Homo sapiens: one gene and its partners. The protein of the gene in region 1 purifies or fractionates together with the protein of each later gene. This does not show direct contact. Each region holds a gene or a part of one and is shown in the gene's direction. Other genes may lie near its edges.

Region 1 (3,330 bases):
TGTGATCCCCAGCCAGGCTCAACCTCCTGGGCTCAAGCAATCCTCCCATCTCAGCCCCCCAAGTAGCTGGGACCACAGGCATGCACCATCACAGCTGGCTAATTTTTGTATTTTTGTAGAGACGGGATTTCACCATGTTGTCCAGGCTGGTCTCGAACTCCTGGACTCAAGTGATCCTCCCACCTCAGCCTCCCAAAGTGTTGGGATAACAGACATGAGCCACCACACCTGGCCCAGCACTCAGTACTCTTGAGGCAAAGTTTTAGTGGGTGTGGTACGCCTAGGGCTTTACACTCTCTCTCTTGCATTTGAGGGCTCTTCTACCAAGTTAGTTTCTGCTGTCATTTGAAAGGATGAGAAAGAGATCAAGGACTTGAGCAGTAGGTGAGGGTTTTCAGACATTGTCAAAAAGCAGTTTAAGGCCAGGTGCGGTGGCTCACGCTTGTAATCCCAGCACTTTGGGAGGCCGAGGCAGGCGGATCACCTGAGGTCAGGAGTTGGAGACCTCCAGCCTGACCAACATGGAGAAACCCCATCTCTACTAAAAATACAGAATTAGCTAGGCATGGTAGTGCATGCCTGTAATCCCAGCTACTCTGGAGGCTGAGGCAGGAGAATCAGTTGAACCCGGGAGGCAGAGGTTGCGGTGAGCTAAGATCGCACCATTGCACTCCAGCCTGAGCAACAAGAGCGAAACTCCATCTCAAAAAAAAAAGCACTTTTTAAGTCACCTCGACTTCTTTAGGCAAAGGCCTGTCTCTGTAGCAGCTCAGAGAGGAGTGTCCAAATGCCATGCAATGAAATGGCAGCATCGTTTCTTTTCTGCAGCTTCTTGGGCAGATCTTTAAATGGGCAAAGTGACCAACAAGGTGGGTGGGCAGGTGAGAGGATGTGCTTGCTGCCTCTCCAGAACCTAGTCTCCATCCTGGTGTCTACATTTTCCCCTTTCCCTGCTTGCTCTACACAGGAGTACTTTTCTCACCGGGTACTTGTTTGGTGACCTGGAGTGTGAGGCAGTGAATTTCATGCTGCTTTCAGGGCCCAGTAGACAGGCAGTTCAGTAGAGGCCAAGAGGTAAACTGGCAGCCAGGTACAGTGAGAGGGAAGCCTGACCTGGCAGCCTGTGATAACCGGACTGGAAGGCTGGGCATCATAATAGTCTCAGGGCTGCCAGCATCACCTTTGGCACTGGTAGCTGCTTGTGCATCCAGGAGGAAGGCCTGTTAGGCAGCTGCTGCCCGATTCCACAGCCAGCAGGCAGTCGTGGGAGTCCCTGCCCAGTGAGTGCAGTTGTGTAGCGGGCAGGGATAGCTCCCTGTCCTGGTGAGAGACCCAGGAAGGGATGAATCCTTAAAATGAACAGACTGTTCATAAGCCTCCTCTCTGGGACTTAGAAAGAGCAACTTTGCCTTCTTCTGTGCTGCAGCTTCTCTTTGGCAGAGTTGGGCCCCAGAAAGGAGAAGCAGGAGACAAACAGCTGCATCCACCCTGAAAACCAGATTATGTTACTAATGGTGGGTAGGAGTTAAGTGACTCAGCTGTGGGCAGAAGCCAGGAACCCTCGATGGGCCGCCCAGAATTGAACACTCAGGAGCTTTTCATTTGGAGAGAAGGATAATAAGGTGTAGCTTCATTTTGGAATAAGCGATACATCCAAGACAGGGAAAATCTAGAGCCCATGTTTTTGCCCTGATTTCCCATAGTTCTCAGCTCTAGCTTCCAGGCTGCTTTCCCAGATACTGTTAGGTACCAGTTAGAGGCTCTGTCCTTGAGAACCACCTAGCCCATCTGGAGAAATACTGGGTGGAACAGGACACCACAATTCAGGAGCCTCGAACCAGGCAGGTGTTGTATAAGCCAGAGGAGGAGTCACCACGTGATAGCAGAAATACCTTTAGCCTTGGAAGTTCTGAGGATTGCTCTGAACCAGCCACCTGCCTTCATGGTGAGAGATAAAGGAACTGCTATCTGGGAGCCCTGAGAGGTATACACTGTGTAGGAGGAGCTGACAAATGAGGTAGTACTAAGAAGACGGTTTGAGCCTAGTCGGAAATTCAGGTACGTCTAGGCCATCCAGAAATTGTGAACAAGTGATTCTTCTATCTAACTTGGTACGTTGAATGTCCTTGTGGGCTTAACACTGATATTCCCGGGCATCCAAAGTATCCAATAGGAAGGAAGAGCTCGTGAAACCATTCTGTGAAAGCCAGATTTTAGCCGATGTCCTGTGGTTCCAGTGCCTCTGCTTAAGGAATCTAGCCCTTTCCACCTCTCATTTGGTGTTTCTTTGGGATCCCATCTAGTCTAGGAGTGTGGGGTGGGAGGAAAGGGCAGCCAGAAACTGACCTTCGCACTTATCTCTCCTTTTGAAGGGGGAAGACGTTTTCATCCCGCTAATCTTGGGAATAAGAGGAGGAAGCGGCTGGCAACTGAAGGCTGGAACACTTGCTACTGGATAATCGTAGCTTTTAATGTTGCGCCTCTTCAGGTTCTTAAGGGATTCTCCGTTTTGGTTCCATTTTGTACACGTTTGGAAAATAATCTGCAGAAACGAGCTGTGCTTGCAAAGACTTCATAGTTCCCAAGAATTAAAAAAAAAAAAAAAAGAATTCCACTTGATCAACTTAATTCCTTTTCTTTATCTTCCCTCCCTCACTTCCCTTTTCTCCCACCCTCTTTTCCAAGCTGTTTCGCTTTGCAATATATTACTGGTAATGAGTTGCAGGATAATGCAGTCATAACTTGTTTTCTCCTAAGTATTTGAGTTCAAAACTCCTGTATCTAAAGAAATACGGTTGGGGTCATTAATAAAGAAAATCTTTCTATCTTACATGAGAATTTGCTGGGTTTCTGGACTGCGAGTCCAAAGTGAGAAGAGAAGGAAGGAAGAAGGATAGACCTATACTACCCTTGAACCTGCAAACCTAAGCTGGGAAGCCCTAGTTTCAGGAGCCCATCAGGTTTAGATCCTCACCTTCCCTAGAGGAGAGAATGGCTGGCCAGTGAGCTATATTTAAACTTTTTTTTTTTCCCCCTGAGAGACAGGGTCATTACCTCCTGGGCTCGGGTGATCATCCCACCTCAGCCTCCCAAATAGCTGGGATTACAGGCGCATACCACTATGCCTGGCTAATTTTTTTTATTTTTAGTAGAGATGAGGTTTCGCCATCTTGCCCAGGCTGGTCTCAAACTCCTGGACTCAGGCAGTTTGCTTGCTTCAGCCTCTCAAAGTGCTGGGATTATAGGCATGAGCTATGGAACCCAGCGAGCTATTAATACAAACTTACATGCTTCCTTATAAAGCTTGGTCCCTGAGACTCTGTGGCTGCT
Region 2 (3,500 bases), on another chromosome or scaffold:
AGGCTCATCTTCCATGGTGGCAGGAGAGAGATTGCACAGGGGAAAGCGCCAGAAACTTATCAGACAACCAGATCTCAAGAATTCCCTCATTATCATGAGAACAGCATGGAGGAAACTGCCCCGTGATCCAGTCGCCTCCCACCAGGTCCCTCCCTTGACACATGGGGACTACACTTCAAGATGTGGGTACACACAGAGCCAAACCATATTACTTCTCAAATGTCAACTGAGGATAATTATGGTACAGTATGTAGATATACGTAAAACACTTGGAACAGTCTCTGGCACAAAATAGTTCTCAATAAAGGTTTACTATTATTAATATTTTTAACAAAACCTCCAGCCCTACCAAATAAAAAGCAGCTACCAGAACCTTCCTTATAGACATGCCTCCGTTTGGCTGTCTACTATACACGTGGGCCCCTCTCTTGTGGGTGTACAGATGGGAGTGAAGATAAGTATAATGTGACTGTGAGTCTTCAGAGGTCAGCCGTCTTAGGATCTCTTGAGTAACACTCCACGAGCTACGTCCCTAGTCAGTCTCCCTAGGATCCTTGAGAAGAGTCTGAATTGGCCTCTAGGCTCTTCCTACTTAAAGTGGGGTCCCCCAGCCACCAATATTGGGAGAAAAAGTAAGATCTCAGGTCGTATTCCAGACCTGTTAGAGTCTGTTTTTTTTTTTTTTGAGATGGAGTCTCCCCCTGTCACCCAGGCTGGAGTGCAGTGGTATGATCTCGGCTCACTGCAACCTCCACCTCCGGGTTCAAATGATTCTCCTGCCTCAGCCTCCCAAGTAGCTGGGATTACAGGCGCCCGCCACCACACCCAGCTAATTTTTGTATTTTTAGTAGAGACAGGGTTTCGCCATGGTGGCCAGGCTGGTCTCGAACTCCTGACCTCATGATCCGCCCACCTCGGCCTCCCAAGTGCTGGGATTACAGGTGTGAGCCACCACGCCCGGCCTAGAGTCTGCATTTTTAACCAGATGCCAGGCCATTTGTGTGCATGTGAAAGTTCAAGAAGCACTGCCTAGATCCGAGTTACCCCATGTAATCCATGGACCAGCTTTTAAGGGAACTTGTTGGAAACACAAATTCTTAGGGGCCCATCCTGACCTACTGAATCAGAGTTTGAAACAGAATTATATAGATAGGACCCAGGAATCTTCTGTTTAACAAGTTCTCCAGACTTGTCCTATGCTCAGTGCAGTTTGAGAAGCACTGTTCTAGCTGGTATGTCGTCTGAGTATTCTCATTAGCTCTCATTACTTCTGGCTGGCTGGTGGCCTGGGCACTTGGTCACTCTGAGGTTCCTTTCTCTCCAGGGGCTGCATCTTCTTCCCAGTTTCAAGGCTTACCTTCCCGCAGTGCAATCTTTCAGCAGCAACCTGAGAACTGTTCCTCTCCTCCCAACGTGGCACTAACCTGCTTGGGTATGCAGCAGCCTGCTCAGTCACAGCAGGTCACCATCCAAGTCCAAGAGCCTGTTGACATGCTCAGCAACATGCCAGGCACAGCTGCAGGCTCCAGTGGGCGCGGCATCTCCATCAGCCCCAGTGCTGGTCAGATGCAGATGCAGCACCGTACCAACCTGATGGCCACCCTCAGCTATGGGCACCGTCCCTTGTCCAAGCAGCTGAGTGCTGACAGTGCAGAGGCTCACAGGTAAGACCGCCTAACGTCACCCAGCCATCTATGCATGGGATCCAGGTGGGAGGAAGCCCCTTAGCAGAGTGAGAGAAAAGGAGGGAAGGAGAATGGGTCTGACTAGGCTGTGCTCTTGTTTCACGCTTTCTAAAATCAGGATGCTGGGTTTGGAATGAACTTGTCAGCTTTTTATTGACCCAGGGTTAAAATTCTAATGAGACTGAGGTGGAAAATGGGAAAGCTACCTTATTATTTGCTACCTTATTATTTGCTTGCAAAGAAGAAAATGGCCTGTTAGAGGAATGTATAAAAATTCCAGTTCCCCTTTTCTTGAAGGGAGCATCTTGAAGTTGCTTCCTTCAAAATGAGCTAGATCTATTACCCACGCAGTGCCCTCAGTCCCTTGGAGGTTACTGGACAAGCCAGTAATGGAATAAATAGGGACAATGCATACATCTGCCACTTCTCTGTCACACCACAGTTCTCTGTACCAGTGGGTTCTCCCTACTGAGGAGGAGGAGCTGTTCCCAGGAAGTCTAGTACTTGTTACATGGATGTCTGGTACTCCCTTTTGTGTCTGCAGCTTGAACGTGAATCGGTTCTCCCCTGCTAACTACGACCAGGCGCATTTACACCCCCATCTGTTTTCGGACCAGTCCCGGGGTTCCCCCAGCAGCTACAGCCCTTCAACAGGAGTGGGGTTCTCTCCAACCCAAGCCCTGAAAGTCCCTCCACTTGACCAATTCCCCACCTTCCCTCCCAGTGCACATCAGCAGCCGCCACACTATACCACGTCGGCACTACAGCAGGCCCTGCTGTCTCCCACGCCGCCAGACTATACAAGACACCAGCAGGTACCCCACATCCTTCAAGGACTGCTTTCTCCCCGGCATTCGCTCACCGGCCACTCGGACATCCGGCTGCCCCCAACAGAGTTTGCACAGCTCATTAAAAGGCAGCAGCAACAACGGCAGCAGCAGCAGCAACAGCAGCAACAGCAAGAATACCAGGAACTGTTCAGGCACATGAACCAAGGGGATGCGGGGAGTCTGGCTCCCAGCCTTGGGGGACAGAGCATGACAGAGCGCCAGGCTTTATCTTATCAAAATGCTGACTCTTATCACCATCACACCAGCCCCCAGCATCTGCTACAAATCAGGGCACAAGAATGTGTCTCACAGGCTTCCTCACCCACCCCGCCCCACGGGTATGCTCACCAGCCGGCACTGATGCATTCAGAGAGCATGGAGGAGGACTGCTCGTGTGAGGGGGCCAAGGATGGCTTCCAAGACAGTAAGAGTTCAAGTACATTGACCAAAGGTTGCCATGACAGCCCTCTGCTCTTGAGTACCGGTGGACCTGGGGACCCTGAATCTTTGCTAGGAACTGTGAGTCATGCCCAAGAATTGGGGATACATCCCTATGGTCATCAGCCAACTGCTGCATTCAGTAAAAATAAGGTGCCCAGCAGAGGTAAGTGTCTCCTCACAGTGGAAGTCCTGGGCCAGTCTGCCCTAATCAACTGACTCAGTAATGTTATCTTTTTTCAGCTAGTATTCTGTGTTCCTAAGAAAAAAAGAATTTCTGAGCTTCACGACCTTCTTGGGGAGAAGCATGTAGGAAGTGGGTATTGGTGGGCAAGGGGTCCATTTTCAAAATCAAAGGACCATGATACAAAATTAACACTTAGTCAATAAGATAGATGATCCATTTCCCTTATTCATACCACAGTTTCTTGGAATCCAGAAATTCCTGACTGCCATCCAAACAGCTAACTTTAAACTTGTGCAATAGAAAAAAAGTCAGCCCAACATAATTTAGTGTAAATAGTGTGGGAACAAGAGTCAGAGCACC
Region 3 (3,500 bases), on another chromosome or scaffold:
GATCGAGGTCTGAGCTGGACATATAAATTTGGAAACTGTCAGCATATCAATGATATTTAAAGGCATGGGAGTGGATAGTGAGTATAGATAGAGAATGCTGTTAAAATCTGGAGAGATGAGGAGGACCTGCCAGTGAGGTAAGAAAGAGTGGTCTCCTGGAAGCTAACTGAAGAAAGCCTATTAAGGAAAAGGGAGTAATCAGTTGTATCAGATGCTGTTTGATGGGTCAAGAAAATGAAGATAAAGAATTGACTTAGCAACATGAAGTTACTTGTGATCTTGAGGATAGCAATTTCGATGGAATGGTGGGAATGAAAGCCTGATTGCAATGGGCTTAGGAGAGAAATTGGCCACGATGAATACACTAGAGGTAATACTTTAGAGTTTTGCTGCGAAAGGCGGCAAGGAAAAAGGATAGTACCTGTTAGGGAAAGCAGAGTTCAGATTCTTTTAGTTTCGAAGAAATAATAGAGTTTGTGGTATGCCAATTGGAGTGATGCCATAGAGTACAAAGCTGATGGTGCAGAGGTGAGAAGGGAGGATTGCTGGAGGAATGTTCCTGAAACTGGGAGGATTTGGCGAGTCCAGGATTTGGTGAGGAGGGATGGGAATGTGATGCATATATGAAAGGGTTGCCTTAGGAGCAGGGCCATCCACCTCTGATCTTGTGGTGAGGTGGATGTAGGCAGGGTTGCATGAATATCTGTTCTTATAGAAGGTTAAGTGCTTATGCTTCTCACTGTGGAAAGTTGGAGGGCATCATTCTAGCTTTATATTAATAGATGGGAAAAATATATATACTGTGGTCTTTGGAGTTGTCCTGAATAAACAAACCTTTAAACACATTTTCTGAACCGGCATAAATTCCAAGGAGGTAGGTCTGTAGCAGATCCACTACGGTAGTGTAGAGAGGAGGAAGGGCACAGGTTATTTTTAAAAATTAGTGTTTGACTTTGGAATACTTAAAGAAAAATTTGGTTTCCATACTATATTTGATTACACTAAATTAAAATAAGCTTTCTTTGTGCACACTTCTGTAGGTGGCAGGAAAAATGCTACCTCTTTTTTTCCCTTTTTATTTTTATAGAAGCCAATGGTATGGATATATCACAGTTTAAGTATTGCCCCACTGATGAACATTCAATTTCATTCCTTCAAAAACTGTAGAGTCCTACCATGTAGCAGACATTGTACTAGGCCCTCTGGTTATATAGTTATGAACAAAACAGATGAATTCTTATGGTGCTCACAGTCTTATGTAGGGGTTATGATAATAAAAACAAAAGAAAACAGTGTATCAGGTTGTTTCATGATTTTTAAAAATAATGATGCTCTGTGAACTTCCTTGAGTAAATCTCACTGTATCACGGGTAGCTCAAACTCACTTTCCCAAAATTGAACTTAGCATCCATGAAACCAATCCTGCTGGGTCCAGTGGCATGTGCTTGTTGTCCTAGGCACTTAAGAGGCTAAGGCAGGAGGAGCACTTGAACTCAAAGTTCAAAGCCAGCTTGGGCAACCCTGTCTCAAAAACAAATAAACAAAAAACAACTCTTCAGGTACTCAGATCTCTGTGTTATTTCTTTTCTTTTTCTTTTTCTTTCTTTTCTTTTCTTTTTTTTTTTTTTTTTTTGAGACAGGATCTCAATATGTCGCCCAGGCTGGAGTGCTGGAGTGCAGTGGCATGATCACGGCTCACTGCAGCCTTGATCTGGGCCCAAGCCATCCTCCCACCTCAGCCTCCCTTGTAGCTGGGACCACAGGCAAATGTCATCTGGTTCGCTAAGGTGGATGTCTGCCTAGCTTAGCCCTCAAGCTTCTAGAATAGCCCCTTTCAACTAGGTTCCATGAGAATTAATTTCTTTTTTTTTTTTTTGAGACCGGAGTCTCGCTCTGTCACCCAGGCTGGAGTGCAGTGGCACAATCTTGGCTCACTGCAAGCTCCGCCTCCCGGGTTCACGCCATTCTCCTGCCTCAGCCTCCCCAGGAGCTGGGACTACAGGCGCCTGCCACCACGCCCGGCTAATTTTTTGTATTTTTTAGTAGAGACGGGATTTCACCGTGTTAGCTAGGATGGTCTTGATCTCCTGACCTTGTGATCTGCCCGCCTCGGCCTCCCAAAGTGCTGGGATTATAGGCATAAGCCACCGCGCCTGGCCAAGTTCTTTTTTTTTTTTTTTTTTTTGAGACGTAGTCTCGCTCTGTCACCCAGGCTGGAGTGCAGTGTTGTGATCTCGGCTCACCGCAACCTCCACCAATCGTTCAAGCGATTCTCCTCCTTGGCCTCCCAAGTAGCTGGATTACAGGCACATGCCACCATGCCTGGGTAATTTTTGTAGAAACAGGGTTTCACCATGTTGGTCAGGCTGGTCTTGAACTCCTGACCTCAAGTAATCTGCCCGCCTCAGCCTCCCAAAATGCTGGAATTACAGGCATAAGCCACCGTGCTCGCCCAGAATTAAGTTCTAATGCCCTTTTTTTTTTTTTTTTTTTGAGACGGAGTCTTACTCTATTGCCCAGGTTGGAGTGCAGTGGCGTGATCTCGGCTCACCGCAACCTCTGCCTCCCAGGTTCAGGCGATTCTCCTGACTCAGCCTCCCGAGTAGCTGGGATTGCAGGCATGTGCCACCACACCCAGCTAATTTTTGTATTTTTAGTAGAGACGGGATTTCACCATGTTGGTCAGGCTAGTCTCAAACTCCTGACCTTGTGATCTGCCCACCTCTGCCTCCCAAAGTGCTGGGATTACAGGCATAAGCCACTGCACCCGGTCCAGGTGAAACATTTCAAACATGGCTCAGTAAATATTGCCTGATTCTCCCAAGCAGTCTTCAACACTCACATATCTTCCACTCTCTCCCTTGTTTATGATTCTCAGCTCCAGCCAAAAGGGCCAGTTGGTTTCTTAGCCATGCTATGTACATATTTGAATTTTTGCCTTCCAGGAAGAGCATCCATTCCTCTCTGCTTGTTTGAGTCCCACCCTTAAAGTTAGTCAAGTCCAGCTTTTCCCCTAGAGGTTATTCCCACTTTTAGGTTATGTCCTCACTTCTGTTCATGCTGTCTGGCACATAATTCAGCTTTTGGCACAAGTGGTGCTCAGTGCTTGGTGGTGGTGTTGACAATTGAGGCTGGGGGCCAAGACAGGAAGTTCTTGGGACATTTGGGCTCCTGGGTATTGTCTTAAGGGTCTCTTTTCCCAACAGAGGTCCCCCCTATTGGAAGTAAAGGGGAACATAGAACTGAAGAGACCTCTGATTAAGGCCCCTTCCCAGCTGCCTCTCTCAGGAAGCAGACTCAAGAGGAGGCCTGACCAGATGGAAGATGGCCTGGAGCCTGAGAAGGTGAGCTGGGCATGGAGAGCTGTGCATGTGTGTGGGGGGTGTGTGTGTGTGAAAGAAAGGAGAGAGAGAGTATAAACCATTAGGGAGGGTGACTATGGACCTTGTCTTTATCTTTCCCCAGAAACGGACAAGAGGCCTGGGTGCAACGACCAAAAT
Region 4 (3,500 bases), on another chromosome or scaffold:
CAGATGAGGTTTCACCATGTTGGCCAGGCTGATCTCGAACTCCTGACCTCAAGCGATCCACCTGCCTGGGCCTCCCAACCCTGAGGGTTTTTGTTTTTGTTTTTGTTTTGAGACAGAGTCTTGCTCTGTCGCCCAGGCTGGAGTGCAGTGGCACGATCTCAGCTCACTGCAAGCTCCGCCTCCCGGGTTCACGCCATTCTCCTGCCTCAGCCTCCCAAGTAGCTGGGACTACAGGCGCCCAACACCCCCATGCCTGGCTAATTTTTTTGTGTGTGTTTTCAGTAGAGACGGAGTTTCACCATGTTAGCCAGGATGGTCTCCATCTCCTGACCTCGTGATCTGCCCACCTCAGCCTCCCAAAGTGCTAGGATTATAGGTGTGAGCCACCACGCCCAGCCCCTGAGGTTTAATAATAGGTGCCAGGCCAGGTGGTTAATAGAAGTCTGGGGCATTGTAGGGGGACAGAGGAGGATATATGTCCCCATTGGCCATTGTAGACTCCCTTCCACAAAAAGGACGTCAGTGAAGTGACATGCCCACCTCTACCCCACCCTCCTCCCAGTCCTGGGCACTAGGGCTGCTCCCCAGGTGTTCTGTACCCCCTCCCCACTCTGTCCCATGCCCTGGCCTCTGCCCTCTTTCAAAACATAGATGTGGCTGGCGCCTAGGCTCATGCCTATAATCTCAGCACTTTGGGAAGCTGAGGCTGGAGGACAGCTTGAGCCCAGGAATTCAAGACCAGCCTGGGCAACATAGTGAGACCCTGTCTCTACCAATTATTTTATTTTATTTTATTTTGTTCATTTATTTATTTATTTTGAGACAGAGTTTTGCTCTGTCACCTAGGCTGGAGTGCAGTGGCGTGATCTTGGCTCACTGCAACCTCCGCCTCCCGGGTTCAAGCGATTCTCCTGCCTCAGCCTCCTAAGTAGCTGGAACTACAGGCGAGTGCCACCACGCCTGGCTAATTTTTGTATTTTTAGTAGAGACCAGGTTTCACCATGTTGACCAGGATGGTCTCTGTCTCCTGACCTCATGATCCACCCACCTTAGCCTTCCAAAATGCTGGGATTACAGGCATGAGCCACCACTCCCAGTCCTATAAAATTTTAAAAAAATGTCTGGGTGTGGTGGCGCATGCTTGTAGTCCCAACTATTGGGGAGGCTGAGGCAAGAGGATTGGTTGAGACCAGGAGTTTGAGGCTGCAGTGAGCTATGATGGTGCCACCGCACTCCAACCTGGGTAACAAAGTGAGACCCTGTGTCTAAAAAAGAATTTAAAGGCCGGGTGTGGTGGCTCACACCCGTAATCCCAGGACTTTGGGAGGCCGAGGTGGGCAGATCACGAGGTCAGATTAAGACCATCCTGGCTAACAAGGTGAAACCACGTCTCTACTGAAAAAAAAAAATACAAAAAATTAGCCAGGCATGGTGGTGGGCACCTGTAGTCCCAGCTACTCAGGAGGCTGAGGCAGGAGAATGGCGTGAATCTGGGAGGTGGAGCTTGCAGTGAGCCAAGATCCTGCCACTGCACTCCAGCCTGGGTGACAAAGAGAGACTCCATCTCAAAAAAAAAAAAAAAAAAAAAGAATTAAAAAAGATTTTTTTAATGAACAAAACAGGCTCGGCACAGTGGCTCATGCCTGTAATCCCAAGCACTTCGGGATGCCAAGGTCAGGGGATCACCTGAGATCAGGAGTTCGAGACCAGCCTGACCAACATGGTGAAACCCCGTCTCTACTAAAAATATAAAACTCAGCCAGGTGTGGTGGCACACGCCTGAAATTCCAGCTACTCGGGAGGCTGAGGCAGGAAAATTGGCTTGAAGCCGGGAGGTGGAGGTTGCAGTGAGCCGAGATCACGCCACTGCACTCCAGCCTAGGCAACAGAGTGAGACTCTATCTCAAAGAAAACGAACAAAACATAGATGCCTACATACCATTCCTCTGCCCTTGGCTCCTGGGGAGTAAGGGATCACCCAGTGACCTCCTAGAAGGCCAGTGACAATGGGGGGTGTCAGGGTGCTTTTCAGAGCCAAGGGAGTGGTAGGAATTGGGATCTTAGTCCAGCTCCAAGCTGTGAGGGAGAGAGTTGCAGGGCACTTAAGCTTGGTGGAGACCCTCAAGGCCTCTTTGCCTGTCCCTGCAGCAAAGGTTCTGGACACCAGAGCCAAGTCCAGAAGCCCTGGTGGAACAGGGGTGAAAAGCATAGGTTCTGACTTCAGACTGCTGGGCCGCAGCCCTGGCTATCCCACCCCAGGTGAGAGCAGGCTGCTCTGTGCCTCAGTTTCCCCATCTTCATAGTGGAATTGTATTGGTGCCTACCCAGAGGGTTGTGTCAACAATTAGGATGGCACCTAGCACCTTGGTCAGTGGTGGGAAAGGTTCCAGAAGTTCTGCTGTGGTCCCAGGGGTGTCTCAGGCCCTGCCATCATCTCCTTGGAGGGGTGCCATGTGGTGGGAAAGAACCCCAACTTCAAGGCCACACACAGTGGCTCATGCCTGTAATCCTAGCACTTTCAGAGGCCAAGATGGGAGGATCACCTGAGGTCAGGAGTTCAAGACCAGCCTGGCCAACATGGTGAAACCCCATCTCTACTAATGATACAAAAATTAGCTGGGTGTGGTGGCACGTGCCTGTAATCCCAGCTACTTGGGAGTCTGAGGCAGGAGAATCTCTTGAACCTGGGAGGCAGAGTTTGCAGTGAGCTGAGATGGCACCACTGTACTCCAGCCTGGCCGACAAAGTGAGACTCTGTCTCAAAAAAAAAAAAAAAGAACCCAAACTTTTGGTGTTCAGCCATGTTCCCATGCTCACTCCCAGGGTGGTGACTCTGGGAAGGTCTCAGCCTCCTTGTCTGCCCAGTTAGAATGATCTGATGCCCCTGCTACCATCAGACTTGATAAGTTTCCCAAAGACTCTTTGCAAGAAGCACTGTTCTGGAGGGTGGAGGAGAGACTAATTGTTCTTGCTCTCCTGGCCAGAGTGGGAAGCTTTGGGGTGGCCGGTTTGTGGGTGCAGTGGACCCCATCATGGAGAAGTTCAACGCGTCCATTGCCTACGACCGGCACCTTTGGGAGGTGGATGTTCAAGGCAGCAAAGCCTACAGCAGGGGCCTGGAGAAGGCAGGGCTCCTCACCAAGGCCGAGATGGACCAGATACTCCATGGCCTAGACAAGGTACTTGCCGTGGCCCAAGCCCCACCCAAGGCCCCTTCCCTGTGGCCCCAGGCTCCCACCAAATCCCTGAGCAAACAGTGCAGTGTTGCCCATCTGTGGTTTCACATTGAACTAATTATATACTCAAGTGCTGTTTAACTGTGTGCCTTGATGACTGCCTCTCTCCATCCTTTAATGACCCCTGTGGCCCACATGGCTCATGGGTAAAGGTGTGCTGGGCCTGAGATGCCCCCTCCCAGGGTGCGCTTCCAGGACTCAGCTCCTGGGCAGGGACAGTCAGTCACCAGGGATAGGGTGGGACCAAGGCAGGGGCTCTCTTGG
Region 5 (3,500 bases), on another chromosome or scaffold:
GGCCTTTTCCTCTAATTTTTAAGTTAAAAAAAATACGTTCAATGCCCCACAGCATCTGCCTCCAAAATCTGAAGGGGCCTTCTAGGTCAGGCAGTTCCCAGCAGTGGCCGCCCCTGCCCGCACCGCCCCTGCCCGCACCGCCCCTGCCCTTCGGGCGCTGGGCCTGGCTGAGCGCCGTCGCCCCCTGGTGGACTCTGTGCCCCACAGCTGTCCCACGGGGATGCTGCGCCCCTGGGAACCCAGCACCTTCGAAGGCCACCTCTGCCCCCTGCCCAGAGCCTGCCTGTGCCGTGGCCTGTCCACATCCAGCACAGGGGCCACGGGGCACAGAGCGCTGGGTGACAAGTCTTTTGTCACCTGCCAGGACCCTGGGACTGCGGCCCATGAGCAGCGAGGCTGGGACTCCAGCGTGCGGTGCTTCAGCCCCGGCCACTGTGAGGGGTCGGGAGCCCAGCCCGGTACCCGTCCGCAGAGGCCAGGCGGGGGCAGCCGACCGCAGCCGGGTGTGGAACTGCCCTTGTGCGCGTCTGGGGCTTGGGGCCGGGGTCACGGATCTGCTGCGGCTGTGGGGGCTCATGTGCTCCAGGCAGGGGCAAGAGCTCCGTGTCACTGAGCGCCCCAGGCCACTGTCAGCAGCAGGGGGAGACGTGGAAACTGAATCCTTCCTTGTTCCTGGCCTGGGAAAAAACTTAGTCTCCCATCTCTCTTTATATTGAAGGAAAAAACAGGCAGGGGAGGAGCCCGGGCCGGAGAGAAGAGGGGCTCGGGGTGGGGGCGGGGGCGTGCCCGCCTTCGCTCTGGGGTTCCTGCGCCCGAGCACTTTACTGCCCCCACGGGTGAGAGGTGGGCCTGTTTTCCCCATCAGCCTTGGTTCCGCCAGTAAACCCGATCCGGTTGGAGCCATCCTCACCTCCGCAGTCGAGGGCAGAATCTGTTTTCCAGGTTGGGATGTGAATTCTCAGTGGCGCCCACTCTGTGACCCGGCGGGATGGGGTCAGCCTGGGCTGTGGACGTGGTGGGTGGGAGAACGCTGGGCAGGCCTTCTGAGTGTTCGGGGCCCTCTCTGGGCCCTCTGCTGGCTGGACTGGGCGGGACGTGGCCCCCGGGATGGGTGGACAATGTGTGTCCCCCGCCCCTTCAAGAGCATTGGCCCCAGTGACCCTGCTGCGACGGCTGCGTCTCCTTCTTCCCCCCGACCATGCTGCCCCCGTCCCAGGCGGGGCTCGGCAGGAGCGCCATGTGGGGCCCCTGGGAGGAGTCCTGTGGCTTTGACATGAATGGGGGTACGGGTGGTTGGCGGTGGGTCTTGGTCCTCAGCTGGCGGCTTTGCTCCTGACTGCCCCAGTGGCTTCCGTGTCTAGCCTGACACCCGTGTCAGCCCAGGGACAGAGGCCCCGGGAGGCTGCAGTCCAGCCCTCACAGAGGACAGGGCCGTGGGCAGGACCTGCGGCGCCGGGTGCCAGCCACAGCCCCCAGAGGCCCCCTTAGAGCTGGGTGTTCTCGGCCTTGTGCTGAGGCCTGTGCCAGGCTGGAGCTGCTCAGAGATTTCGGGGTGGTGGGCTTCCTGGGATCCCCCCAAGGTCAAAGGGTACCCTGTATCCCCTGAAGTGACCATTTTCTCTCTCTCTCTGCAGGCCAGCACTCCTTGCCCGAGGACAGAGATGGCGAGCGCCCGGATTGGGGATGAGTATGCGGAGGACAGCTCTGATGAGGAGGTAGGACTGGGGCTGCTTCCCACTGGGCAGGGTGGGGCGGCTTCCATCACAGCCTAGCAGGTGCTGGGGGTTGGGGCTGGGGTTGCCCTGGGGGTGCTGGGACCTGCCGCAGGTGGGCCGCACTGTTGGAGCCGAGGCCCACGTGGGCGTCCTGCTTCCCCATCTGCAAGAGCAATTTCGGGGTCTGGGACACAAGACTGCAATGTATGTGTGTCATCATGGCTTGTGAAGGGGAAGGACCTGGGTGTGGCTCCATGCCCCTGTGTCTGGCCTGTGGACGGGCTCTGGGGGCTCCTGTGGCGTCTGCAGGGTGGCTGTGGGCTCCCTGGGCGTGGCGTGCATGGTCTGGGTGGGGGTCATGGTCGGGGTGGGGGTCACGGGCATGGGTGGTGCCCCTGTCGTGTGTGCTGTGGGGTGGGCCACAGGTTGGCTGGGGGCCAGGCGGGCAGAACAGGGCCAGGGCCACCTCCTAATGTCCTGATGTTCTGGGCAGTGGTGGCCCTTCCCTTCCCCTGGGGTCCCCCTGCCCCCCACCCCTGGTGGTGGCTGATGTGGGCTGGGGCCGTTGCCTCTGGACCTCTGACTGAGTCCCAGGAGCACATCTCAGGAGGGGCAGGAGGTCGGCTGTTTCTCATAAGGAGCTTGCAGGCGAAGGGGGATGCGTGCTGCTGGGCTGGGCTCCACCAGCGTGGAGAGGCTGGCACCGGGCTGGGCTCCGCCAGCGTGGAGAGGCTGGCACCGGGCTGGGCTCCGCCAGCGTGGAGAGGCTGGCACCGGGCTGGGTTCCGCCGGCGTGGAGAGGCTGGCACTGGGCTGTGTCCAAGAGCAGATTTGGCTGCGGGGGGCTGCCCTCATTTGGGAGGGGCTGGAAGCTCTGAGAAGCTCTGAAGCCAGAGGCAGTGCCTGCCTATACCCTCCTCAGTGTGGCCTGGCCCCAGGGTAGGACTGTGGTCCCAGTGGAGCACCTGGGTGTGAGGCAGAGTCTCCTTTGGGCCCTGGGGGCTGTGGGGGAAGGAGAAGGCTTTGGTGTAGGGCCTTCCTGAAGGAGCTCTTCCTGCCTGCCTGTCAGGAACTGTCCCCGGGGGGCCTGGGGGAGACACGCGCCCCCCTCCCCCCAGGTTCTTCCCCCATCCTTCGGCTCTCTTGGCTGTGGCTGCAGGAGCCTTGGCCGCCCGCCCGATCCGGTCTCTGCTGCGCGTTCAGAGAACAGAGACAAAACAAAATAAATTGGTTTCCTGGCCGGAGCAGCGGGCTCACTCAGAGCGGGGGGGCCACGCCGCGCACTCCCTGCCTGTCTCCCCTCCCCCTCCCAGGGGCTCTGGCTGTCGGCAGCCACATCCTGTCGGCTACTTTTTTATATTTGGTATTTTGAGAAATCGATGATGATTGTAAACGGAGCGCGGAGGCCGGGGGAGGGGCCTCGGCGGGGCCTGTGGGACCCTGCTGCCCCTGGGGGTGCTTTGCCAGGCCTGTCCAGTGCCACCGCCGCCTGCCGGGTGGGCAGCCCCCTGCTGTGCTGGGAGGAAGCCGGCCAGGGATGTGGGGGCTGCTTCCTCCAGTGATGACTATCCCATATGTTGGTCTGAGTGACAGCGAGGGAGCCCGGGTGCTGCCCGGTGCTCCTGCCAGCACAGCCGGCCAGTGGCTCGAGGGGGCGGCAGAGCTCAGCTTTCAGGAGCCAGGCCAGGCCCGGACAGATGCCTCCCGTCCAGAGAAGTGCGCATCTGCCTGGGCCTCTGTTCCCTTGGAGCAAAGTGGGGTGGCCCTAGGGGAGTGATTTGGGGC
Region 6 (3,500 bases), on another chromosome or scaffold:
CCACCTTATTCTGGAAATGTAGAAGCAGATGCGTTCTCATACGTACACTCTGTAATTTGAGCCTTACAGCTACGTACAGGGTGGAACAGAACCTAGATAAGGAAACAGATGGAACCAAAAATACTTAAGATGGAAATGCTGGAAAATATTTAGTTTCTGATTTTTTTTTTTTTTTGAGACAGAGTCTTGCTCTGTCACCCAGGCTGGAGTGCAGTGGCGCAATCTCCGCTCACTGCAAGCTCCGCCTCCCAGGTTTACACCATTCTCCTGCCTCAGCCTCCTGAGTAGCTGGGACTACAGGCACCCGCCACCATGCCCGGCTAATTTTTTGTATTTTCAGTAGAGACAGGGTTTCACCGTGTTAGCCAGGATGGTCTTGATCTCCTGACCTCGTGATCCGCCTGCCTCATGCCTCCCAAAGTGCTGGGATTATAGGCATGAGCCACCGCGCCCGGCCACGTCTGGCTAATATTTTTGTGTTTTCAGTAGAGACAGGATTTCACCATGTTAGCCAGGCTGGTCTCAAACTCCTGACCTCAAGTGATCTGACCGCCTCGGCCTCCCAAAGTGCTGGGATTACAGGTGTGAGCCACCATGTCCCACCTTGTATTTACTGTTTATAAAAGAAAAAGGAATTTTATTTGTATCAACTGGCTAATTAATGCAAAATTTGTTTAGTGATTTTGCTAAGCTGAACTCACACTAATAAAGGTAGTTATAAATATGTAATTTATGGAAACCCATTATTTTGTTGCTCTTTGAGATCCTTCTTGTTTTTCTTGTTTGCACTAATACAGATTTTAGGCTATCTGAAAACTGTCAGGAAATGAAAAGTCATGCAGTGAATCATAAAATGAAGATGCACAGTTGATCCTCATTCTTCACAGATTCCGTATTTATGAATTGACCTCATTAAGTCTGTGTAACCCCAAAGTCAATAATCGAGGTGTTCTGTGGTTACTCTGGGACACAGTGAAGAGTGGTAAAAAATTTGGGTTGCCTGTTGCAGGCATTCCCAGCTGAGATGGAACAAGGCAATCAAAACTGTTTTCTTGTTTCAGCTCTCGTACTGCAAACAAGTGTCTTTTTTTGTGGTCTATTTAGTGGTATATTTTTTCGTGCTTTTTTGAGGGGAGAGGGGTGATTTTTTTTATTTTTATTTTGAGACCAATCATTAAACAGCATCATTTCGTTGTTTAAAACGGCCCTCTGATGTAGTGCTGAGCTGAGGTCTAGTGTTTCTAAGTGCAAGAAGGCCACGATGTACTTACAGAGAAAAGGAAAAGGTGTGTATTAGATAGGCTTCAGTCAAGCGTAAGGTATAGGACAGTTGTCCATGTGTTCAGTGTTAGTGAATGAACAATATGTATTTTAAATAAGGTGTCCTTAAACAGGAATGTACAGAAACACACATAAAACAAGGTTATATATTGATCAATTGATAAAAATGTTATGACAGGTTTGCACGAACCAAACCCTGTATTTATTATAGGAGTAATGGTTCAGTACTTGCTAATTGGTGTTTGAGGTGACTTTATAGAAGATAACTACTGTGAGGCCGGGTGCAGTGGCTCACGCCTGTAATCCCAGCACTTTGGGAGGCCATGGCGGGCGGATCATGAGGTCAGGAGATCGAGACCATCCTGGCTAATGCGGTGAAACCCCGTCTCTACTAAAAATAGAAAAAATTAGCCAGGCGTAGTGGCGGGCACCTGTAGTCCCAGCTACATGGGAGGCTGAGGCAGGAGAATGGCGTGAACCCAGGAGGTGGAGCTTGCAGTGAGCAGAGATTGCGTCACTGCACTCCAGCCTGGGCGACAGAGTGAGACTCCATCTAAAAAAAAAAAAAGACGATAACTACTGCGAATAGCAAGAATCAACTGTATTTTAGTGAAATTTACAGTATCTTTTTTACATAGAGTTCTAGAATTTTTAAATGTTTTTCATGTATATTATCTTTGGTTTTCATGTTGGCCTGTGAAGACAGGTGGATATTATTATTATTTTTTTTTTTTAGAGACAGGGTCTTACTCTGTCTCCCATGCTGGAGTGCAGTGGTATGCTCATAGCTTACTGCAGCCTCGAATCCGGGGCACAGACAATTCTTCTGCCTCAGCCTGCTGAGTAGGCAGGAGCCAGGTGCACACCACTGCACACAGCTAATGGTTAGAATTTTTTGTAGAGATGGGGTCTCGCTTTGTTGCCCAGGCTGGTCTTGAAGTCCTGGCTTCAAGCTATCCTCCCACCTTGGCCTGTCAAAGCACTAGGATTATAGGTGTGAGCTACCTTGCCCAGGCTATTATTCTTATACATATGAAATACTGCAAACTAATATTTAGTTCCAAATTGGCTTTTGTCTTAAAATGGTTCACCAAGTAGTAATAAAATTCTCTTTCTATTGTTTGTTTTTTGGTAAATTTAATTTAGCCTGATGAAAACAAAGGCGATATGCATTATGATGCTGAGATTATCCTTAAAAGAGAAACTTTGTTAGAAATACAGAAGTTTCTCAATGGAGAAGACTGGAAACCAGGTGCCTTGGATGATGCACTAAGTGATATTTTAATTAATTTTAAGTTTCATGATTTTGAAACATGGAAGTGGCGATTCGAAGATTCCTTTGGAGTGGATCCATATAATGTGTTAATGGTAAGATGGGATGAGGGCAAGGGCAACGTCATTAAGTTTCCTTTTTAAAATACTTTCCAAACTCCACCATAATTACGTTAAGAACCTGTACTAGGTCACTTATACCGTATTGATGAACAAGCCACAAAATTGTAGAAATGATTTTGTGCTTTTGAGTCCAGTTCTTTTTAGCTGTCTTAAGTGTTTTTGGTGGCTGATTTCTGCTTCTCTCTGTTTTAAGGTACTTCTTTGTCTGCTCTGCATCGTGGTTTTAGTGGCTACTGAGCTGTGGACATATGTACGTTGGTACACTCAGTTGAGACGTGTTTTAATCATCAGCTTTCTGTTCAGTTTGGGATGGAATTGGATGTATTTATATAAGGTATTATATGGATGGAGGGTTTTACAATTTTAACACATTTATTCACAATGAAAGAAGACTCTAATCCATTGAGAGCAATCTTGCCTTGGATGTGGGTTGGAGGCAGTGATTAGAGGTGGCCCACGCTGGAGAGGAATTAAATGGACACTTCTTAGCTGACAGTTTTTTGATTCCTTGACCAGTTAGTGGGTAAAAAAGTTCAGTCCTAATTTTCATAACCCAGTTAATGTTAACATTTGGGCATCTAAGTCAGAATAAAGCCAGGTGGGTTGGGTGTGGTGGCTCATGCCTGTAATCCCAGCATTTTGGGAGGCTGAGGTGGGCAGATCACTTGGTCAGGAGGTCAAGACTAGCCTGGCCAACATGGTGAAACCCTGTCTCTACTAAAAATACAAAAATTAGCTGGGCCTGGTGACGTGCACCTGTAGTCCCAGCTACTCAGCAGGCTGAGGCAGGAGAATTGCTTGAACCTGAGAGGTTGCAGTGAGCC
Region 7 (4,072 bases), on another chromosome or scaffold:
ACAAAAAAAGAGTATTGGGATATGGGGAGTTTGGCTCCTGTAGAAAGGGTAGTCTGGGAGGCCTGTTAGAGGAGTTAACATTGGACCTGAGACCTGAGGATGAACAGAAGCCATCCTGAAAGAACTGGGAAAATAAAGAGGTGGCCAGGCGTGGTGGCGCACGCCTGTAATCCCATCACTTTGGGAAGCTGAGGTGGGCGGATCACCAGGTCAGAAGTTCAAGACCAGCCTGACCAACATGGTGAAACCCCCCTCTACTAAAAATACAAAAACTAGCCAGGCGTGGTGGCATGGGCCTGTAATCTCAGCTACTCAGGAGGCTGAGGCAGGAGAAATCGCTTGAATCCAGGAGGCAGAGGTTGCAGTGAGCCGAGATTGCGCCACTGCACTCCAGCCTGGGTGACATAAGAAAACTCTGTCTCAAAAAGAAAAAAAAAAAATACAAAAATTTTCCGGGAGTGGTGGCGTGCTCCTGTAATCCCAGCTACTTGGGAGGCTAAGGCAGGAGAATTGCTTGAACCCAGGAGGCCGGGGTTGCAGTGAGCCAAGATCATGCCACTGCACTCCAGCTGTGGCAACAGAGACTGTCTCAAAAAAAAAAAAAAAGAAAGAAAGAAAGAAAGAAAAAGAAAAAAATAACTCGCAGAGGAAACAGCCAGTGCAAGGGCCCTGAGGCAGGTAGTTCCGTGTTTTTTGAGGAACAGAAAGAGAGTGTTTCTGTTGTAAGAGTAGTGCTAAGACAATGTTGAAGGGGCAGTCCGGATAGAATGAGAAGGTAGAAATTTAACCGAAACAGGAAGCCACTGAACAGTATTGGAGGGGGAGAAGGATTACAGAGGGGTCGTGGGAGAGGCCAGGGAGCAGTTGGAGGTGATTTCAGTGATCCAGGTGAGAGACAACGGGGGCTTGGACTGGGCTGGAGCTGTGGAGTTGGAGAGACGCCGGCAAATTCAAGGACTTAGGAATGGATTAACTGCGAGGGTTGAAGAAAAGGAATGAGGTGACCTTGGGGTTCAGGCCTGGGTGATGAGGCGCTTTAGTGGTGCCTTTATTCAGATTTGAGTCTGGAGTCGGGTCTGAGGGGTGGGGCTCGTTCAAGCGGAGGCACGGTGGAGACAGAGGGAATTGGACTCAGTCGGGGGGCAGCAATGGAAGTCAGCAATTGCTTAGGGCGGAATGCGATTTCCGGGGAGGAGGCGCGGGTATGTAGACAGAGGGGGTTGGGACACACCAGGAGGGGAGGAGCCAGCCCCAGAGATCGGGAATCCTCTCAGTCCTTAGTTACAAGGCTCCATCCTCACTTTGTTCGCTCCTCAGTCGTCCAGGCGGATTCCTTTTTCGCCAGGTAAGGCTGGCCCGGGTGCATGGGGCCCGGCGTGCCCTGGGTAAGGCTGGCCCAGGCGCGTGGGGTCCGGGGCGCGCCGGGTAAGGCTGGGCCAGGCGCGTGGGGTCCGGGGTGCCCCGGGTAAGGCTGGTCCAGGGGCGTGGGGTCCGGGGTGCCCCGGGTAAGGCTGGTCTAGGCGCGTGGGGTCCGCAGCGCCCCAAGTAAGGCTGGTCCAGGAGCGTGAGGTCCAGGGTGCCCCGGATAAGGCTGGTCCAGGCGCGAAGGGCGCGGGGTGCCCCGGGTAAGGCTGGCCCAGGTACGTGAGGCCCGAGGTGCCCCAGGCAAGGCTGATCCGGGTGCGTGCGTGGGGCCCGGGTAGGGGCAGGCAGTTGGCCCCCTCACTTGACTCCCTGCTCTTTCCCTTACTGTCCGTGGCGCAATGAGAAAAAAACTCTCCTAAGACTTATCTATCCCCAAATTGGAAACATGAAAGTAGTTCTGTGAAGAAAAAATAAAGTCAAGAAAATGAGGTGGTGCTTGACAAGTCCTAGCTTTAGAAAAAGGATGGAGGGGCCGGGAGCAGTGGCTCACGCCTGTAATCCCAGCACTTTGGGAAGCCGAGGCGGGCGGATCACCTGAGGTCGGAGTTCGAGACCATCCTGACCAACATGGAGAAACCTCGTCTCTACTAAAAATACAAAATTAGCCAGGCGTGGTGGCGCATGCCTGTAATCCTAGCTACTCAGGAGGCTGAGGCAGGAGAATCGCTTGAACCCGAGAGGCAGAGGTTGCACTGAGACGAGATCGCGCCATTGCGCTCCAGACTGGGCAACAGGGGCGAAACTGTCTCAAATAAAAAAAGATGGAGGGCCGGGCGTGTTATTTTCCAGCACTTTGGGAGGCCGAGGCGGGGGCGGATCACGAGGTCAGGAGATCGAGACCATCCTGGCCAACTTGGGAAACCCCGTCTCTACCAAAAATACAAAATTAGCCGGGTGTGTTGGCTCGCGCCTGTAGTCCCAGCTACTAGGGAGGCCGAGGCAGGAGAATCGCTTGAACCGGGGAGGCGGAGGTTGCAGTGAGCCGAGATCGGGCCACTACACTCCAGCCTGGGCGGCAGAGCGAAACTCCGTCTCAAAAAAAAAAAAAAGTGTTTAATTATGTGACTGGAAAAATTGATTTGGAAGTAATAACTTTTGCATTTTCTTCAATTTCCTCCGATTGTTAGGCAAATCGAATTCTTGTTCAAATTGCAAAAGGAAAGCGTGCCTTCCATAATAATAGACCCCAACTCTCACAAAGAAGAAACCATTCTCTCCGGCCCCTCCCTGGCCTCCTCAGATCCACCTCTGGGTCCTCCCATTCCCTGCAGCCCTCTCCCGACTTACACCCCAGACTCTGCTAATTGTGTGTGCCTTTTTAAGCAAACACATGCATAGATAAGTGCTTTTTTTTCCCAGTCTTCAATATAAGGTGATTTTCTACATTAAATAAACCTTAAACTTTGGTGTTATGAACTTGACTTGAATTCTAGGCACCAAGGCACAGCTTAGAGTAGACCCGAGTCCTGCTCTGCGGAGTTCGTCTTCCCAGCGAAGGTACAGAGGCGGATGAACTGCTGAGACTTGGTAAGTAGTTTAGTGGATTAGGGGTAGGATTAGTGGCGGGTAAGTGTGCGGGTGGGGTTGGGGTGGGGTATTTCATTTTTTGAGACGGAGTTTCGCTCTTGTCGCCCAGGCTGGAGTGCAATGGTGCCATCTCCGCTCACTGCAACCTACGCCTCCTGGGTTCAAGCGATTCTACTCCCTCAGCCTCCCAAGTAGCTGGGATTACAGGCGCCTGCCATTATACCCGGCTAATTTTTGTATTTTTAGTAGAGACGGGGTTTTGCCATTCGGCCAGGGTGGTCTCGAGCTCCTGACCTCAGGTGATCCTTCCACCTCCATCTCCTAAAGTGATGGGATTACAGGCGTGAGTCACTGCGCCTGGACTGGGGAGGGGTATTTTAGAGTGAAACAAGGGAAATGACCTTGGGTCTGATAAAGAAATGAGCCCTACTTATAATCTAGTGTGGGTCAGGACCCTTTTGCAGTCTGGTGCTATTAGCAGAACCCACAGTTCGTCATCGCTAGAAACCACATTTTGTTTCACATAACAGTTGTTGCAGGTTTTGCATTCTCACTACTTCAAGATTAAAAGGTAGGGCCAGGTGTGGTGGCTCACACCTGTAATCCCAGCACTTTGGGAGGTTGAGGAGGCCAGATCACTTAAGGTCAGCAGTTCGAGACCAGTCTGGCCAACATGGCGAAACCCCATCTCTACTAAAAAGTACCAAAATTAGCTGGGCATGGTGGCACGCTCCTGTAGTCCCAGCTACGTGGGAGGCTGAGGCAGGAGAATCGCTTGAACCTGGGAGGTGGAGGTTGCAGTGAGCCGAGATCCTGCCATTTCACTCCAGCCTGGGCAAGAGTGAGACGCCCTCTCAAAAAAAATAAATTATATATATATATATATATATATATATATATATATAGTTTAGTCCTGCTACTCAATCTTGTTTAGTAGTAGGTTAAGAAGCTCATATATTCCAAATTTTTTATTATCTAAAAAAGTTTTTTAGAGATGGTTTTGCTATGTTGCACAGGCTGGTCTCAAATTCCTGGCCTCAAGTGCTCCTGCTGCCCCGAAAGGTGCTGGGATTACAGGCTTGAGCCACCGCACCCAGCCCAGCACTTTGGGAGGCCGAGG

What was found.
Region 2: the proteins of ARPC2 (region 1) and SIK3 purify together in Homo sapiens (affinity purification with mass spectrometry; one large-scale study listed by BioGRID and IntAct). This does not show direct contact.
Region 3: the proteins of ARPC2 (region 1) and KIFC1 purify together in Homo sapiens (affinity purification with mass spectrometry; one large-scale study listed by BioGRID and IntAct). This does not show direct contact.
Region 4: the proteins of ARPC2 (region 1) and ASL fractionate together in Homo sapiens (co-fractionation; one large-scale study listed by BioGRID). This does not show direct contact.
Region 5: the proteins of ARPC2 (region 1) and BOP1 purify together in Homo sapiens (affinity purification with mass spectrometry; one large-scale study listed by BioGRID and IntAct). This does not show direct contact.
Region 6: the proteins of ARPC2 (region 1) and CLCC1 fractionate together in Homo sapiens (co-fractionation; one large-scale study listed by BioGRID). This does not show direct contact.
Region 7: the proteins of ARPC2 (region 1) and L1TD1 purify together in Homo sapiens (co-immunoprecipitation; one large-scale study listed by IntAct). This does not show direct contact.

What each region holds. Positions count from the first base shown.
Region 1 is NC_000002.12:218,251,519-218,254,848, forward strand, and holds the end of ARPC2 (actin-related protein 2/3 complex subunit 2), read left to right. Parts: intron 1-2,372; coding exon 2,373-2,397; 3' UTR 2,398-2,830; downstream 2,831-3,330. UniProt on the Homo sapiens protein: Actin-binding component of the Arp2/3 complex, a multiprotein complex that mediates actin polymerization upon stimulation by nucleation-promoting factor (NPF).
Region 2 is NC_000011.10:116,857,429-116,860,928, reverse strand, and holds part of SIK3 (serine/threonine-protein kinase SIK3), read left to right. Parts: intron 1-1,324; coding exon 1,325-1,664; intron 1,665-2,229; coding exon 2,230-3,119; intron 3,120-3,500. UniProt on the Homo sapiens protein: Positive regulator of mTOR signaling that functions by triggering the degradation of DEPTOR, an mTOR inhibitor. Involved in the dynamic regulation of mTOR signaling in chondrocyte differentiation during skeletogenesis.
Region 3 is NC_000006.12:33,394,823-33,398,322, forward strand, and holds part of KIFC1 (kinesin-like protein KIFC1), read left to right. Parts: intron 1-3,206; coding exon 3,207-3,344; intron 3,345-3,465; coding exon 3,466-3,500. UniProt on the Homo sapiens protein: Minus end-directed microtubule-dependent motor required for bipolar spindle formation. May contribute to movement of early endocytic vesicles. Regulates cilium formation and structure.
Region 4 is NC_000007.14:66,078,819-66,082,318, forward strand, and holds part of ASL (argininosuccinate lyase), read left to right. Parts: intron 1-2,984; coding exon 2,985-3,179; intron 3,180-3,500.
Region 5 is NC_000008.11:144,274,439-144,277,938, reverse strand, and holds part of BOP1 (ribosome biogenesis protein BOP1), read left to right. Parts: intron 1-1,634; coding exon 1,635-1,715; intron 1,716-3,500. UniProt on the Homo sapiens protein: Component of the PeBoW complex, which is required for maturation of 28S and 5.8S ribosomal RNAs and formation of the 60S ribosome.
Region 6 is NC_000001.11:108,942,985-108,946,484, reverse strand, and holds part of CLCC1 (chloride channel CLIC-like protein 1 isoform 1 precursor), read left to right. Parts: intron 1-2,427; coding exon 2,428-2,649; intron 2,650-2,869; coding exon 2,870-3,010; intron 3,011-3,500. UniProt on the Homo sapiens protein: Anion-selective channel with Ca(2+)-dependent and voltage-independent gating. Permeable to small monovalent anions with selectivity for bromide > chloride > nitrate > fluoride.
Region 7 is NC_000001.11:62,193,577-62,197,648, forward strand, and holds the start of L1TD1 (LINE-1 type transposase domain-containing protein 1), read left to right. Parts: upstream 1-1,272; 5' UTR 1,273-1,345; intron 1,346-2,858; 5' UTR 2,859-2,952; intron 2,953-4,072.